Linked DNA regions of Homo sapiens: region 2 is linked to region 1. Evidence: fine-mapped expression QTL. A gene starts in region 1. The other region holds a variant in brackets. All regions are shown on one strand. Distances are from middle to middle.

What was found. PIP is the estimated chance that this variant, and not a neighbour inherited with it, causes the effect. A credible set is the group of variants that fine-mapping cannot tell apart.
Region 2: its variant is the best candidate, but not a certain one, in a credible set for the expression of CA5A in anterior cingulate cortex (GTEx, PIP 0.61).

The regions. Positions count from the first base shown.
Region 1 is chr16:87,934,961-87,937,867 of GRCh38, forward strand. It overlaps CA5A (carbonic anhydrase 5A), which reads right to left and starts at 1,569. Exons shown (of 7, transcript NM_001739.2): 1 at 1,349-1,569. The coding sequence starts at 1,490.
Region 2 is chr16:87,904,502-87,907,408 of GRCh38, forward strand. CA5A (carbonic anhydrase 5A) reads right to left here. Exons shown (of 7, transcript NM_001739.2): 3 at 285-403. Among named protein-coding and RNA genes, the nearest start is that of CA5A, 31 kb to the right of the region's middle. The variant A/G (reference allele first, on the strand shown) is at 1,363.

The sequences.
Region 1 (2,907 bases):
TGAGTGTAGCTCACTCAGAGTCTGGGGTGGGCCAGGCTTTCTACACGCATCGTGTCATCCTTCCATGGCCCTGGAGAGAAAGTCTGGCCACCCCCATCTCGAGATAAGGACACAGAGGCTTGGGGGTGAAGACCTGCCGAGGCTCCACCTCAGCAAGCGTCAGTCGGACTGCATGCCTGGGGTCTGGCTCCTAAGCCCATGCTCTTTCAATGGCCCAAACATGGAATGCATGGAAGATTTCAGTTAGAAGAGAACTTGGCAGCTGCCAAAGCAGGCTCTCATTCTACGGAGGAAGCACCTGAGACCCAGAAAGAGGAAGGGCCTCGTTCAAGGTCACAAGGCACTGACCATGAAGCCAGGAGGGGCTGGCACGGGGCAGTTTCTTGGCAGAGCTGGCTGAGTGGTTTATTTGTTACAGGTTTGCTTGAAAGCGTTCTCTGCCGAAGAGTTTAGGAGCGATCGTGACTGGTTAGTGCAGCCCATTCCGCCGGGTCTGGATGGTGAGTCGTGCCAGTGTGTCCCGTGCGAACACGGACTACCCGCCTGCTCCCAGCATCTTGCCCTCCCCAGGACCCCTGAAACGGAGGCTAAATGATTCACCCAAGGTCACCAAATACAAGAGAAACGGAGTGTGGCCAGGCGCGGTGGCTCACGCCTGTAATCCTAGCACTTTGGGAGGCCAAGGTGGGTGGATCACCTGAGGTCAGGAGTTCGAGACCAGCCTGGCCAACATGGTGAAACCCCATCTCTACCAAAATACAAAAAATTAGCTGGGTGCAGTGGCGGGTGCCTGTAGTCCCAGTTACTTTGGAGGCTGAGGCAGGAGAATCACTTGAACCTGGAGGGCAGAGGTTGCAGTGAGCCGAGATCATGCCATTGCACTCTAGCCTGGGCAAAAGAGCAAAACTTCATCAAAAAAAGAAAAAAGAGGGCCGGGCGCCGTGGCTGATGCCTGCAATCCCAGCACTTTGGGAGGCTGAGACAGGCGGATCGCGAGGTTAGGAGTTCGAGACCAACCTGGCTAACACAGTGAAACCCTGTCTCTACTAAAAATACGAAAAATTAGCCAGGAGTGGTGGCATGCACCTATAGTCCCAGCTACTCAGGAAGCTGAGGCAGGAGAATCGCTTGAACCCGGGAAGTGGAGGTTGTGGTGAGCTGAGATCACGCCACTGTACTCCAGCCTGGGCCACAGAGCGAGACGCCATCTTAAAAAAAAAAAAAAAAAAACGGAGTGGAAATCTGAACCCATCTGGCTCGGGACGGTCTCTCCTCTCTCCTCTCGAAAGACCCCATCAGCTAAGACAAGGATCCAGTCGCATCTTAGGAAATTTGAGGCTCTACTTACAAGTGTTATTGCTGGTTTGCCATGCACAGGAACGCTGAGAACACCATCGCCCTGGCCTCATCGAACGACTCCAGAGAGGGGCCCACATCTGCTCAACCAAGAAGGAGAAAGCTGAGGTCTTCCAAGTGTTCCTCCCCAACATCTTGGGTCTGTTCCCACTGACTCCAGTCTGAAGAGGGTGATGTTCCCTGCTGTCTGTTCTCACTTTGATCAGGACCACTGTGGACTGGCGTGTACCCACCTCTTTTTGTAGAAACTCATCCCAACCCCTGAGCCTAATGGTTAAAGTTCAACCCATGCCTTTCCCAACAGGGTGGGTCCACAGGGATTAGTGGCCTCTGCTGGGGACAGGCCACTCAGGTCACTGGGCTTTGATCTGGCAAACAGGAGCACAAGTCTGCCAGGGAGCTAGAAAAACTGTACGGTGGGGCTGCGTGAGCACCAGGGGATTACGCGGGAGGCGGGGGCGAGTGGATGAGAGCAGAGTCCCTGTTTCTTTCATGGGGTTGACCGTGTGGTTTGGGGCTCCGGGACACTCAATACCAGGCACAAAGCCATGGTGTGCATGTGAGGAGGGACTGGCAGGCAGGCTCAGAAGTACAGGAATGGGACTGGCCAAAGCGCTGCTGGGTAGACAGGCCAGGGGAGCAGGGAGCTTCTGTCCACCCACCAGGGCTCCTGAAGTCATGGAGTCCTTGCTTGCCTTAAAATAGGTGCGATTTGATTCATTCATCCTCCCCGGAAGCAAGATGCCCTGTGGCTTCGGACACTTCCAGGTCATGCCTGCTGTCTTGGCATAAACATTAACAGGGCCACCTTTCTTTCTTTCCTTTTCTTTTTTTTTTTAGACAGAGTTTCACTTCTGTTGCCCAGGCTAGAGTGCAATGGCGTGATCTCGGCTCACTGCTACCTCTGCCTCCCAGGTTCAAGCAATTCTCCTGCCTCAGCCTCCTGAGTAGCTGGGATTACAGGCGCCCACCACCATGCCCAGCTAATTTTTTGTATTTTTAGTAGAGATGGGGTTTCACCACGTTGGCCAGGCTGGTGTTGAACTCCTGACCTCAGGTGATCTGCCTGCCTCGGCCTCCCAAAGTGCTGGGATTACAAGTGTGAGCCACTACGCCCAGCCTCTTTTCTTCGTTTCTTTTCTTTTCTTTCTTTCTTTTTTTGAGATGGAGTCTCGCTCTGTTGCCCAGGCTGGAGTGCAATGGCGTGATCCTGCCTCACTGCAACCTTTGCCTCCCAGGTTTAAGCAATTCTCCTGTCTCAGCCTCCTGAGTAGCTGGGATTATAGGCACACACCACCACAACGGCCAATTTTTTGTATTTTTAGTAGAGACGGGGTTTCACTGTGTTCCCCAAGCTGGTCTCGAACTCCTGAGCTCAGGCAATCCACCCACCTCGGCCTCCTAAAGTGCTAGGATTACAGGCATGAGCCACTGCGTCCAGCCTCTTTTCTTTTCTTTCTTTCTTTCTTTCTTTCTTTCTTTCTTTTTTTTTTTTTTTTTGAGGTGAGGTCTTGCTCTGTCACCCAAGGTGGAGTGCGGTGGTGCCATCAT
Region 2 (2,907 bases), 30 kb before region 1:
CTCTGACTTTGCATCCCGGCTGTCTGGCTTTGGCAAGTTCCGTAACCATTCAGAACCTCAGTCTCTTCTTCCGTTAAATGAGAGAGAACTTACAGCGCCTTCCTCGTAGGAGAGGTGTGACTAAACGGGTGGGGCGGCCGACGGTTCTGGTTTGAGCACTGACAGTCCCAGGCCCCAGGAAATCCTTCACATCTGAGCGGCGCGCATGGCTTGTTCACCCCCCACCATAGAGCCGGAGACATGGAAAGTGTGCAGATATGTGCTGTTAGGCCACGTCTACAAACCTCTGCGGGGTACGCGTGGCCGTCCACTGTGTGCTCTGAGCCCCCCTCGTTCACTGCTCCCCAGTGGAAGTGAAATTGCTTCAGTCTGTAGTGGTTTTCCAAGGGCCCACCACTAATTCCTGGAAATAAAGGCAGTGAGACGTGTGTGTCATTTTGTCTGTTTGTTGAGCTGTGGTGTTACCTGAGGCATTGTCTACATTAGGGTTATATGAGTTCACTCGCAAGGGGTTGCTGTATGGTTGAAGTGACAAGCCAAAGGTGGGCTCCGTGAAAGGTGGGCTCTGTCTGTCCCATTCACTCTGCCCCCCCCCAGCCCAGCGCCTGCCCAGAGGTTCACAGTAAATGTGGAATGAAGGCAGGGTCCCAGTGCTGCCACTGGGTGGTGGTGAGGGCCTCAACTCCCTGCAGGCAGAAATCCGTAAAGAACGTTTCTGTGATGCCTGCCTGTCCTATAAGATTTCCAGACTTTAATTAAAAAAAAAGGTGTCTTCCAAATATTTTTTAAAAGCAGCTTAAATCCTATCACCAAATAACATTATAAAATAACACACAATGAGCAAAGTTTTTGTTTTGTCTTGTTTTGTTTTATTTTAAGACAGAATCTTACTCTATTGCCCAGGCTGGAGTACAATGGCATGATCTCAGCTCACTGCAACCTCCACCTCTGGGTTCTAGTGATTCTCCTGCCCCAGCCTCCTGAGTAGCTGGGATTACAGGCATGTGCCACCAGGCCAAGCCAATTTTTGTATTTTAAGTAGAGACGGGGTTTCACCATGTTAGCCAGGCTGGTCTCAAACTCCTGATCTCAGGTGATCCACCCGCCTCTGCCTCCCAAAGCGCTGGGATGACAGGTGTGAGCCACCGCTCCTGGGTGAGCAAGGTCTTTAAATAAGAAGACCCTGAGCTGTAGCATCAGTCCTGATCTCTGGCAGTCCCTGCTTAATCTAGGCCCACCACAGGGCCAGCTTTTATTGGAACACTCCTTCCTTCCTAAGTCACCCTAAACACTCACCTTGGAGTCAGCACTCTCTACCTGCAGGCCTCGGGGTGCCCCTCTCCATGGCACAGTGCCAGGTGC[A/G]GCCTCCCAGGAGCTTGCTTCTCCTGACATGTGGGGCTCAGCCATAAGCATCGCTCGCTGAGGCCTCTGGCTCTGGCCCCCAGAGTCATGGCTGCCATTCCCACGTCCAGGTAGTGCTGGGAGTCTGCCTTTTAACGAGCTCCCCAGGGGTTCGGATGTGGGTGGCTTCTCCTGTGTCTAAGTACTTTGTCACTAACAGATTTCCATCAGCAGCTGCTACAAATGGGGTACCCGTTCCACACGTTTTCACTGAAAGCAGCACAGCGTGCTCCTGGGATGGCTGGGCAAGGCTGGAAGGCGCCAGCAGAACTGGAGCACTGATCCCGAATTCAGGGTGGCCCGAGTGCCTCCCATAGCTGTGGAGGAGCCTCATGTCACCTCCCGCTGTGGCAAAAGCCAGGAAAGCACTGAGCGCGTGATGAATGCCTTGGGGAGCTTGACACTGCTGACTCCTGGTGGTTTCCCGACACCAGAAGTACTTGGGCTGGGCGTGGTGGCTCACACCTGTACTCCTAGCGCTTTGGGAGGCCGAGGCGGGCGGATCACTTGAGGTCAGGAGTTAGAGACCAGCCTGGCCAACGTGGTGTAACCCATCTCTACTGAAAATACAAAAATTAGCTGGGTGTGGTGGCGGGTGCCTGTAATCCCAGCTACTCGGGAGGCTGAGGCAGGAGAATTGCTCGAACCTGGGAGGCGGAGGTTGCAGTGAGCTGAGAACGTGCCACTGTACTCCAGACTGGGCGACGGAGTGAGAATCAGTCTCAAAAAAAAAAGTACTCATAGTTGGAGGCACCAAGGTGTAAACTGGAAAATGGAAAATGGATTTGGCTTTAGTCCAGTCAGGGGCTAGGCAAGTGCTGGACCAAGCCACAGAGCTGCTCACTGCCCCTCTTCACTCAAAATCTCAGTGTTGGTCTGGAGCAACCTCAGAGTCATATCTAGTTTTAAAATTCTACCATTATGAGCAAATCTTCTATTCTCCTTAAACATACACAGATGAATTACATCTCAATTTTTAAAAATACACAGAAAGAGTCCTTCCCACAATAAGCACATAAAATCACTTTGTTAGGCCAGGCACAGTGGCTCACGCCTGTAATCCTAGCACTTTGGGAGGCCAAGGCGGGTGTATCACTTGAGGTCAGGTGTTTGAAACCAGCCTGGCCAACATGATAAAACCTCATCTCTACTAAAAATACACAAAATTAGCCAGGTGTATTGGTGGGTGCCTGTAATCCCAGCTACTTGGGAGGCTGAGGCAGGAGAATCGCTTGAACCTGGCGGGTGGAGGTTGCAGTGAGCCGAGATTGCGCCAATGCACTTCAGCCTGGGCGACAGAGTGAGACTCTGTCTCAAAAACAAAACACAGGCGTGAGCCACCGTGCCTGGCCTCCAAAACACAATCTAAGGAACTTACAGAACCACAAAATGGGAGCACGGTGAGCTCTGTGCTCGCTTCTGCCTCGGCCTGTGTCTGTGGGGGAAAGGGGGTTTGCAGCCGACCAGCCCCAGCAGCATCAAAGTGCATTGATGGGTGACTGAGGG